2 separate regions of the Homo sapiens genome follow, and region 2 is linked to region 1. The links come from fine-mapping of genetic effects on gene expression. A gene starts in region 1. The other region holds a variant in brackets. All regions are shown on one strand. Distances are between the middles of the regions.

Evidence for each region. PIP is the estimated chance that this variant, and not a neighbour inherited with it, causes the effect.
Region 2: its variant is the best candidate, but not a certain one, in a credible set for the expression of SNUPN in lymphoblastoid cells (GEUVADIS, PIP 0.72).

The regions. Positions count from the first base shown.
Region 1 is chr15:75,622,488-75,627,858 of GRCh38, reverse strand. SNUPN (snurportin 1) reads left to right here and starts at 2,134. Exons shown (of 9, transcript NM_005701.4): 1 at 2,134-2,193. RefSeq lists an enhancer at 1,766-1,955 and a silencer at 2,606-2,655.
Region 2 is chr15:75,536,705-75,542,075 of GRCh38, reverse strand. The region is part of intron 1 of PTPN9 (protein tyrosine phosphatase non-receptor type 9); the gene reads left to right. Among named protein-coding and RNA genes, the nearest start is that of PTPN9, 40 kb to the left of the region's middle. The variant AT/T (reference allele first, on the strand shown) is at 2,760.

The DNA of each region.
Region 1 (5,371 bases):
GATCACAGCTCACTGCAGCCATGACTTCCTGGGCTCAAGTGATCCTCCCACCTCAGCCTTCCAAGTAGTTGGGATCATGACTCATACCACTACACCTAGCTAATTTTTTTTTTGTGGAGATGGGTTTTTGTCATGTTGCCCAGGCTGGTCTCAAACTCATGGGCTACTTCCACCTTGGCCTCTCAAAGTGGTGGGATTACAGGCATGAGCCACAGTGCCTGACCTGGTTTTGTTTTGTTTTTTCAGTGATATGGGAAGTTATTCAGCTAGGTGTGAGTGAGGAACTAGAACATTTCTCCTGGACCTCCAGGCATGAATTTGGGAACTTCTTTCTCAGTCTCAGTCTATTTTCCTAAAATGTTTAAGGTCTTTATTCTTTTCTATGCAGCCCGACCATTAGATGTGACCTCCGTGGTTGTAAGGGATGGTTGTTTGGACACAAAATACCTAATATCCTGGGTGTCAAAATTCCCTAGTGAAGTCAGGCCCTGGACTTCTCTTTTTTGTCAGTCTCATAAATCAGGCAGACATGAGCTTTTATTTGTGGATGCACCAAATAAATACCCTAGTGGACAGCTTTGCTCAGCCTGGCCACTGAAAGAGCCACCTAAATAAAATCTCAGGTCCAGGCCGGGTGCGGTGGCTCACGCCTTTAATCCCAGCACTTTGGGAGGCCGAGGCGGGCAGATCATGAGGTCAGGAGATCGAGACCATCCTGGCTAACACAGTGAAACCCCGTCTCTACTAAAAATACAAAAAAATTAGCCGGGCATGGTGGCAGGCGCCTGTAGTCCCAGCTACTCAGTAGGCTGAGGCAGGAGAATGGCGTGAACCCGGGAGGCGGAGCTTGCAGTGAGCGGAGATTGCGCCACTGCACTCCAGAGCCTGGGCGACAGAGCGAGACTCCATCTCAAAAAAATAAAAAAAAATCTCACGTCCAGAAAAATTGGCCTTCCAGGGCCCCAGAACCCTTTTTACCAGTCTAGTAATAGCCTTTCATCAGCCTAATTTCCTATTCTTTTTAGTCTGAATGTATGGTGTAATGTGCATAAAATACACAAGTCCAAATTTTAGCATTCCGTGGACGCAAAATGTGCCAAAGGTGGATACTTTGCTTCTGTCATACATCGGTAGTCAACTTCCCTATACATCAAACTTTCAGCAAATTCAAACATTTTCCTTGAAAGCTGTGTTACTTTGGCCAAATTACTTAACCTCTCTGAGCTTCAGTGTGTCTACTTCCTCATGTCATGATTAAGAGTTAATATCTACTGGCTTAAAAAAGAAAAAAAAGGAAAAAAATTAAATGAGATGATGGGTGTGAAGCAGGGATTGGCTGAATGTAAGCATTCAATAAATATTCAGTTTTAAAATTGTAATCTCAGCCTTCCCGCCCTGCAGAGGCTACACCCTGGCAGGACTTAATCTCCTAAATCTCTGCCGCTTACCCTAGTCTTTTGCACCAATTTAATCATTCCTTCACGCAGGGTCTACTGAGCGCCATCCCTTGTGCTGGACTCTGGCTACTTAAATAGGAATCAAGCCAGGTCCCTACCATTGCTCAGCCCGCAGCCGAGTGGGAAAGAAGCTCGCAAAAGCAGCAAACAGGCAGTAATCGAGGTATGTATCTGCTTTTGTTAAGGGCAAGTGGGGGAGCGAAGGTCTGTGTCTGAAACTTGGGTGTGAGGGGTTAGTTGGAGTAATCCAGGCAATTGGCACTGCCCGTTTAAGAGCACGGGCCCAAGAGGGGAAGGGGACTCCAGGTGAAGCCCTAAGGCCCGGGAAGATCTGCGGGAGGCGGCAGGGCCCAGGGCGTTGAATGCCCGGCCACAAGATCAGCCTCCTCCCATTGGCGAAAGGAGCCCCGAAGAGCTTGTGTTCAGGAGGGAGGCCTCGGCCTGGTCAAGTCATCTAGCAGGAAGAGTCCCGGACAGTGCAAAGCAAATGCAAGAAGACCCCCTCCCTAGCCGATGGGAAATGCCCCAGCCGTTGAAGGCGGAAATAACGGCCTGTAGGCAACGGAACTCCCAGCGTTCGCAAAGGAGGGAGGAGCCGGAAACTCAGGGCGCGAGGCCTGTGGGCCCAGCGGTGAGGCAGCAGCTGGGGGCGGGGGGAGGGCGGACCTAGCTTCCCAGGGCAGGTGATTCGTCGGCCCCGGTGGCGGCGGCGCGTGCGACGGTCACCTCGGTTTGGGTGAGTCCCTGGGTTCGAGCCCGGGCCCCGCCAGCTGCCGAGTTGCCTCTCGGTGCCGGACTGTGACTCCCTCTGGCCGGCCCTGCACTCTGGCCTCCTGGGACGTCATCTGGAGGGATAGAGCCAGGCCTGGGACTCCTTTTGGGAGAGTTTCCGTTCTTCTATTCCGTGCTGTCCGGCCAGGACCCCTCAGGGACTTCTGTGGGGCAGGGGCGAATCATGCATGGCCTAGATGACCCCATGCCTAGAAAAAGGCAGTGCGGGGCGGTGGCGGCGCGCACGGCCGAGTGAAGCAGATAGCGTCCCCGGGGCTGGAGCCCGGTAGCAGGGGTAGGGAAACGCGGAGGCTGCCAGGATGCGGACCCAGGGGACGCGAGGCGGGGGCGCCGGATGGGGAGACGCGAAGGAGGGGGAAGGGGATGGGGGAGGGGGCTAGACAGGGAGGGAGGGTGGAGCGTGGGCGGGGCCTGGGGCGGGTCGGACTTTAGGGAGTTGGAGCGGGGGTTACTGGTGCTAAGACCACCTGGGGCTAAGGTCCGAACACTTGGAGGCAGCACCATCCAAGGAATGGGTTGAAACAGCAGGAGCCCGGCGGGGCGCAGTGGCTCACGCCTGTAATCCCAGCACTTTGGGAGGCCGAGGTGGGCGGATCACCTGAGGTCAGGAGTTTGAGACCAGCCTGACCAACATGGTGAAACCCCATCTGTACTAAAAATACAAAAAAAATTAGCCGGGCGTTGTGGCGCGTGCCTGTAATCCCAGCTACTCGGGAGGCTGAGGCAGGAGAATCGCTTGAATCCGGGAGATGGAGGTTGCAGTGAGCCGAGATCATGCCACTGCACTCCAGCCTGGGCAACAAGAGCGAAACTCTGTCTCAAAAAAAAAACAACAACAACAAAGAAAAAACAAAACGAAACAGCAGGAACCCGCCAAGAACAGCCTTGAAGGAAGGTAAAGGAACCGCCCCAGTATCCAGGACATCAGTTTTTCTTTTTTTTTTCTTTTTGAGACGAAGTCCAGGCTGGAGTGCAGTGGCACGATCTCGACTCACTGCAAGCTCCGCCTTACGGGTTCAAGCCATTCTCCTGCCTCAGCCTCCCGAGCATCTGGGACTACAGGCGCCCGTCACCATGCCTGGCTAATTTTTTTGTATTTTTTTTTTTTTTTTTAGTAGAGACGGGGTTTCACTGTGTTAGCCAGGATGGTCTCGATCTCCTAACCTCAGGTGATCTGCCCGCTTCAACCTCCCAAAGTGCTGGGATTACAGGCGTGAGCCACCGCGCCAGGCCCAGGACATCAGTTTCAAAGGTTGTGTGGTTCTTGGCAGAGCGGGAGCCCACACCAAGATAGTGCATGATAGGCCTAATAAAGGTGCTTTGGATTTGGTCATTACTTTGGTGATGAACTGAAAACATAATGACTTTTTAAAAATTTTTATCGGCCGGGCGCGGTGGCTCACGCCTGTAATCCCAGCACTTTGGGAGGCCGAGGCGGGCGGATCACGAGGTCAGGAGATCGAGACCATCCCGGCTAAAACGGTGAAACCCCGTCTCTACTGAAAATACAAAAAATTAGCCGGGCGTAGTGGCGGGCGCCTGTAGTCCCAGCTACTTGGGAGGCTGAGGCAGGAGAATGGCGTGAACCCGGGAGGCGGAGCTTGCAGTGAGCCGAGATCCCGCCACTGCACTCCAGCCTGGGCGACAGAGCGAGACTCCGTCTCAAAAAAAAAAAAAAAAAAAATTTTATCATGAAAGCTTTCAAACTTACACAAAAGTACAGAAAAGTAGAGACAATAGCATACATACCATTATGGATGATTTGAATAACATACCATATGGATCCCAAGCACTCATCATGAGGCCTCAGTCACTCAGGAATGGCAACCCTTGGTTGCATTGCAAAGATATTAAGGCACACCTCAAGCCGGGTGCAGTGGCTCATGCTTGTAATTCCAGCACTTTGGGAGGCTGAGGCAGGCAGATCACTTCAGGTCAGGAGTTTCAGACCAGCCACGCCAACATAATGAAACCTCTTCTCTACTAAAAATACAAAAATTAGCCGAGCATGGTGGTGCATGTCTATAATCCCAGCTACTCAGGAGGCTGAGGCAGGAGAGTTACTTGAACCCAGGAGGTGGAGGCTGCAGTGAGCCGAGATCACACCACTGTAGTCCAGCCTGGGAGACAAAGTGAGACCCTGTCTCAAAAAAAAAAAAAAGGCCGGGCGTGGTGGCTCACACCTGTAATCCCAGCACTTTGGGAGGCCAAGGTGGGCAGATCAGGAGGTCGGGAGATCGAGACCATCCTGGCTAACACGGTGAAACCCCGTCTCTACTAAAAAATACAAAAACAAAATTAGCCGGGCGTGGTGGCGGGCGCCTGTAATCCCAGCTACGCGGGAGGCTGAGGCAGGAGAATCACTTGAACCTGGGAGGCGGAGGTTGTGGTGAGCCAAGATCGTGCCATTGTGCTCCAGCCTGGGCAACAAGAGTGAAACTCTGTCTCAAAAAAAAAAAAGTTTCTTTTATGTTTAAAGGTTACAGAGGTTCAGTTATTCAAGATAAAAGGAGTTCTGGAGAGTTCTGCACAGCAGTGTTGAACATACTTAACTTTACAGAACTGTACACCTACAAATGGTTAAGATGATGAATTTCATGATATGTGTATTTAGCCACAATTTTTTTTTCTTTTTACAGACAAGGTCTTGCTATATTGCCCAGGCTGGCTTCGAACTCCTGGGCTCAAGCATACCTCCTGCCTCAGCCTCCAGAGTAGCTGGGACTAAAGGCAAGCACAACTGCACCTGGCAAACCACGATTTTTAAGTTCCTTTTAAATTAAACAAAATCTAATGTTTCAAATCAAGAAAAATATCTGACTTCACTTGTGCAATGGAAAGTAACTCACTGGCCAAGTAGAGGCCTATGGAGTTGTATTTTTCACTGTAGAGGCTCTGGAATGAACCTGTTGATTTTGATGCTCAGAGCACTGGACCTGGCCTGGGATGGAGGTTAAGCACTGGAGGTGCCCTCTGGTTTACACTAGAACCAAAGGGCTGGGCCAGCCCAGCAGTGCAAGTCAGATTTCTCCCAAATGTTCCTGTTTTCTTATAATCTAAGGCTCACAGGCGCTTGAATGAAGTGTGAATTCACCTTTCTCCCCACTCCCATTCTTTAGGGT
Region 2 (5,371 bases), 86 kb after region 1:
ATGATTTATATTTTATTTTATTTTATTTTATTTTATTTTTGAGATGGCATCTTGCTCTGTCACCAGGCTGGAGTGCAGTGGCACCATCTCGGCTCACTGCAACCTCTGCCTCCTAGGTTCAGGCGATTCTTCTGCCTCAGCCTCTGAGTAGCTGGGACTACAGGTGCACGCCACCACTCCCAGCTAATTTTTGTATTTTTAGCAGAGACGGGGTTTCACCATGTTCCAGGATGGTCTCAATCTCAGGAGGCTGAGGCAGGAGAACTGCTTGAACCTGGGAGGTGGAGGTTGCAGTGAGCTGAGATCGCACTACTGCACTCCAACCTAGGTGACAGAGTAAGACTCCGTCTCAAAAACAAAAAATAATAAAGGCCAGGTGCAGTGGCTCACGCCTGTAATCCCAGCACTTTGAGAGGCTGAGGCAGGCGGATCAGGAGGTCAGGAGATCAAGACCATCCTGGCTAACACGGTGAAATCCCGTCTCTACTAAAAATACAAAAAATTAGCCAGGCATGGTGGCGCGCACCTGTAGTTACAGCTACTGGGGAGGCTGAGGCAGGAGAATGGTGTGAACCTGGGAGGCGGAGCTTGCAGTGAGCCGAGATCATGCCACTGCACTCCAGCCTGGGCGACAGAGCGAGACTCTGTCTCAAAAAATTAATTAATTAATTAATAATAATAATAATAAAATGAGGGCAGGTGTGGTGGATCATGCCTGTAATCCCAGCGCTTCAGTAGGCTAATGGGGGAAGATCACTGGAGGCCAGGAGTGCGACACCAGTCTCGGCTGGTGAGACCCTATCTCTACAAAAATTAAAAAAGTAGCCAGATGTGGTGGCACACACCTGTAGTTCCAGCTACTAGGGAGGCTGGGGCAGGAGAATCATTTGAGCCTAGGACTTCAAGGTTACACTGAGCTATGATCATGCCACTGCACTCAAGCCTGGGCAAGAGCAAGATCCTGTCTCTTTTTTTTTATTTTTTATTTTTTTATTTTTTGAGACAGGGTTTCACTGTTACCCAGGCTGAAGTGCAGTGGTGTGATCACAGCTCACTGCAGCCTGGACCTCCTAGGCTCAAGTGATCCTCCTACCTCAGCCTCCTGAGTACCTGGGACTACAGGTGTGCACCACCACACCTGGCTAATTTTTAATTTTTTTTTTAGAGACGAGGTTTCCCTGTGTTGCCCAGGCTGGTCTCAAACTCCTGGGCTCAAGCGATCCTCCCACCTCAGCTTCCCAAAGTGCTTGGATTACGGGCATGAGTCATCTCGTCCCACCTGGATCATCCTTTTTTTGTTTTAAATAGAGACAGGATCTCACTATGTTATCCATGCTGGTCTCAAGGAATCCTCCCACCTCAGCCTCCCAAAATGCTGGAATTATGTGTCACCTCACCTAGCAGCCGCCTGGATCATTCTTGCAGCAACTGAAAAGTACAAACAGGAAGGCAGCAGAAGTAGTGCTTCCAATCAGACCTGATTCACATTTTTCTTTCTTTCTTTCTTTCTTTCTTTTTTTTTTTTTTTTTTTAGAGACAGAGTCTTGCTCTGTCACCCAGGCTGGTGCGATCTCAGCTCACTGCAACCTCCACCTCCTGGGTTTAAGCGATTCTCCTGCTTCAGCCTCCTGAATGGCTGGGATTACAGGCATGTGCCACCACGTCTGGCTAATTTTTGTATTTTTAGTAGAGACAGAGTTTTGCCATGTTGGCCAGGCTGGTCTCGAACTCTTGAGATCCACCTGCCTTGTCTTCCCAAAGTGCTAGGATTACAGGCGTGAGCCAACATGCCCGGCCACACATTATTTTTAAAAAAGTATTTACAGTGCACTCAAACTTAGTTGACTCTATTCCCTTTTCTTTCATTGTGCCTATTTATTTGCTCTATCTCAATGGACTAAACTTTTGTAAAAGTCAGTTTCACTTTTGTTTTTTATTTCTGATGCTTTCCTTCAAAAAGGCAGAGAAACTGAGGGGTATTTTATGTCTTTAAATTTTTTAATGATACCTTTATAGGTCTTAGCCATAAGGAATTCTATACTTCACACTTCCTAATAAATAAAACGTGACATATAATTTAGAAGTTCACACATTCAGGCCAGACGTGGCGGCTCTTGCCTATAATCGCAGCACTTTGGGAGGTCAGGGGAGTTGCTTGAGGCGGATTACTTGAGGCCAGGAGTTCGAGACCAGCCTGGCCAACATGGTGAAACCCCGTCTCCACTAAAAATACAAAGTTAGCCTGGCGTGGTGGTGCGCGCCTGTAATCCCAGCTACTCAGGAGGCTGAGGCAGAAGAATCACTTGAACCTGGGAGGCCAAGGTTGCAGTGAGCCGAGATCACACCGCTGCACTCCAGCCTGGGTGACAGAGGGAGATTCTATCTCAAAAAACAACAATAAAAAAGTTCACATATTCAAATGGGTGAACATTTCTACCTTCGTGGTCCTCCAATTAAATCTTCTCTACTAGGCTGGGCGCGGTGGCTCATGCCTGTAATCCCAGCACTTTGGGAGGCTGAGGCGGGCGGATCATGAGGTCAGGAGTTCGAGACCAGTCTGGCCAACGTAGTGAAACCCCGTCTCTACTAAAAACACACACAAAAAGTAGGCAGGTACGCCTGTAATCCCAGCTTCTTGGGAGGCTGAGGCAGGAGAATCACTTGAACTTGGGAGGCAGAGGTTGCAGTGAGCCAAGATTGTGCGATTGCACTCCAGCCTGGGTGGCAGTGCGAGACTCCATCTCAAAAAAAAAAAAAAA[AT/T]CTTCTAAATACCAACTTCCTTCAGAGAGAAGATAGTAAATGTAATTTGTTTACTAAAGATAAATCACTGGCCGGGCACAGTGGCTCACGCCTATAATCCCAGCACTTTGGGAGGCCAAGGCGGGCGGATCATGAGGTCGAGAGATCAAGACCATCCTGGCCAAAATGGTGAAACACCTGAGATTACAGGCGTGAGCCACCACGCCCGGCCAAAAAAAAATTTTTTAAAGGTTGCTTATAGTTATCTTCCAATGCTGTTTCCCAGTTCATTTTCTTTCTTTCTTTCTTTCTTTCTTTTTTATTTTTTTTATAGAGACTGGGTCTTGCTTTGTTGCCTAGGCTGGTCTGGAACTACTGGATTCAAGTGATCCTCCTGCCTCAGCCTCACAAAGTGTTGGGGTTACAGGTGTGAAGCATTACACCCAGCCCCAGTTCATTTTCTCTCCCCAGAGGTGACCATTATTACCAGTTTTTTGTGTATCCTACAAATATTTATGTGCATATCTAAATTCCTATAATACTTTTTGCTTACTAATAGTCATATTACTTGTTTCATATACTGTATACTTAGATATACACTGTGTGGTTTCTGAATTTTATTCTCTTCTTTAACATTCCTTTTTTTTTTTGAGACAGGGTCTGGCTGTGTCACCCAGGCTGGGGGGCCATGCAGTGGTACAGTTTCAGCTCACTGCAGCCTCTGCCTCCCGGGCTTAAGTGATCCTCCCACTTGTGGGACTGTAGGCGTGTGCCATCATGCTGGGCGAATTTTTGTATTTTTTGTAGAGACGGGGTTTTGTCATGTTCCTCAGGCTGGTCACGAACTCCTGAGATCAAGCAGTCTGCCCACTTCGGCCTCCCAGAGTGCTGGGATTATAGATTGGAGCCACCACACCTGGCCTAAAATTCCTGTCTTTTTGCATCAGGTTGTTACGCATCTTTTGGCTTCTGTTAGGTATGACCTTCAGTGCAATGTTACATAGTGGTGGTAATAGCAGGTACCTGCTGGCCTTCTCATCTTTAATAGAAAAAAATTACGGGGCCTATGTGTGATGGATTTTACGCAGTGCATTTTCAGCATCTGTTGAGAAGGTTATATACTTTTTTTTCCTTTCCTGTTAACATAAAAATTGCTTTGATAGATCTCCTGATGTTAAACCAAGTCTTTACATTCCTCGGAGAAGCCTGTAATGTGAGAGCTATCTTTACTGTGAAGCTTTGTGTGTGTGTGTGTTTTGTTTTGTTTTGTTTTGTTTCGAGACAAAGTCTTGCTCTCTCTCCCAGGCTGGAGTACAGTGGCACAATCTTGGCTCACTGCAACCTCTGCCTCCTGGGTTCAAGTGATTCTCCTGCCTCAGCCTCCTGAGTAGCTGGGATTACAGGCAGGCACCACCACACACAGCTAATTTTTGTATTTTTAGAAGAGACAGGGTTTCACTATGTTGGCCAGGCTGGTCTTGAACGCCTGACCTCAGGTGATCCGCCTGCCTTGGCCTCCCAAAGTGCTGGGATTACAGGTGTGAGCCACCACGCCTGGCCTTTTTTTTTTTTTTTTTTTTTTTGAGATGGAGTCTCCCTCTGTTGCCCTGCTGGAGTGCAGTGGCACCATCTCGGCTCACTGCAACCTCCGCCTCCTGAGTTCAAGTGATTCTCCTGCCTCAGCCTCCCGAGTAGCTGGGACTACAGGTGCGCACCACCACGCCCAGCTAAGTTTTTTGCATTTTTAATAGAGGTGGGGGTTTCACCGTGTTGGCCAGGATGGTCTTGATCTCTTAACCTCATGGTCCACCCACCTAAGCCTCCCAAAGTGCTGGGATTACAGGCGTGAGCCACCGAGCCTGGCCTTTTTTTTTTTTTTTTTTTTTTTTTTTTAGGGAAGATATTTGACGATTCCTCTTGTTTTTGTTTAGATCACCATTTATTTGATTTTCAGCAATCACTAGTTTTTTTTTTTTTTTTTTTTTGAGACGGAGTCTCACTGTGTCACCCAGGCTGGAGTGCAATGGCATGATCTCGGCTCACTGCAACCTCAGCCTCCTGGATTCAAGCAATTCTCTTGCCTCAGCCTCCTGAGTAGTTGGGATTACAGGCGCCCACCACCATGCCCAGCTAAGTTTTGTATTTTTAGTAGAGACGGAGTTTTGCCATATTGGTCAGGCTGGTCTCGAATTCCTGACCTCAGGTGATCCGCCTGCCTTGGCCTCCCAAAGTGCTGGGATTACAGGTGTGAGCCACCATGCCTGGCCTGCAATCACTAGTATTTCTAAAAGAAAATTGTAAAAGTTCCTTTGTTCTTCATCTTCTGTCTGCCCTCTAAATGTTAATAATATTGAGACTTCAATAATTAATTCATTCATTCATCATAGATATTTATTAAGTAAGTGCTTTGTGCCAGGCACAGTGCTAGGAACTAGGTGAATAAAATAGATATGATCCCTGTCTTCAGGGAACTTACCTCCCTGTTGCTAGATTTTTTTTCCTTTCAGTCTGACTTCCCCACTGCTTATAGTTATTTTTTTGAGGTGGGAGAGGGGAACCAAACTCATCATCTCATCCCTTTGCTTAAAGATCTCTATTGAATCTTTTATGTTTATAGGATCATGTCTGGAAT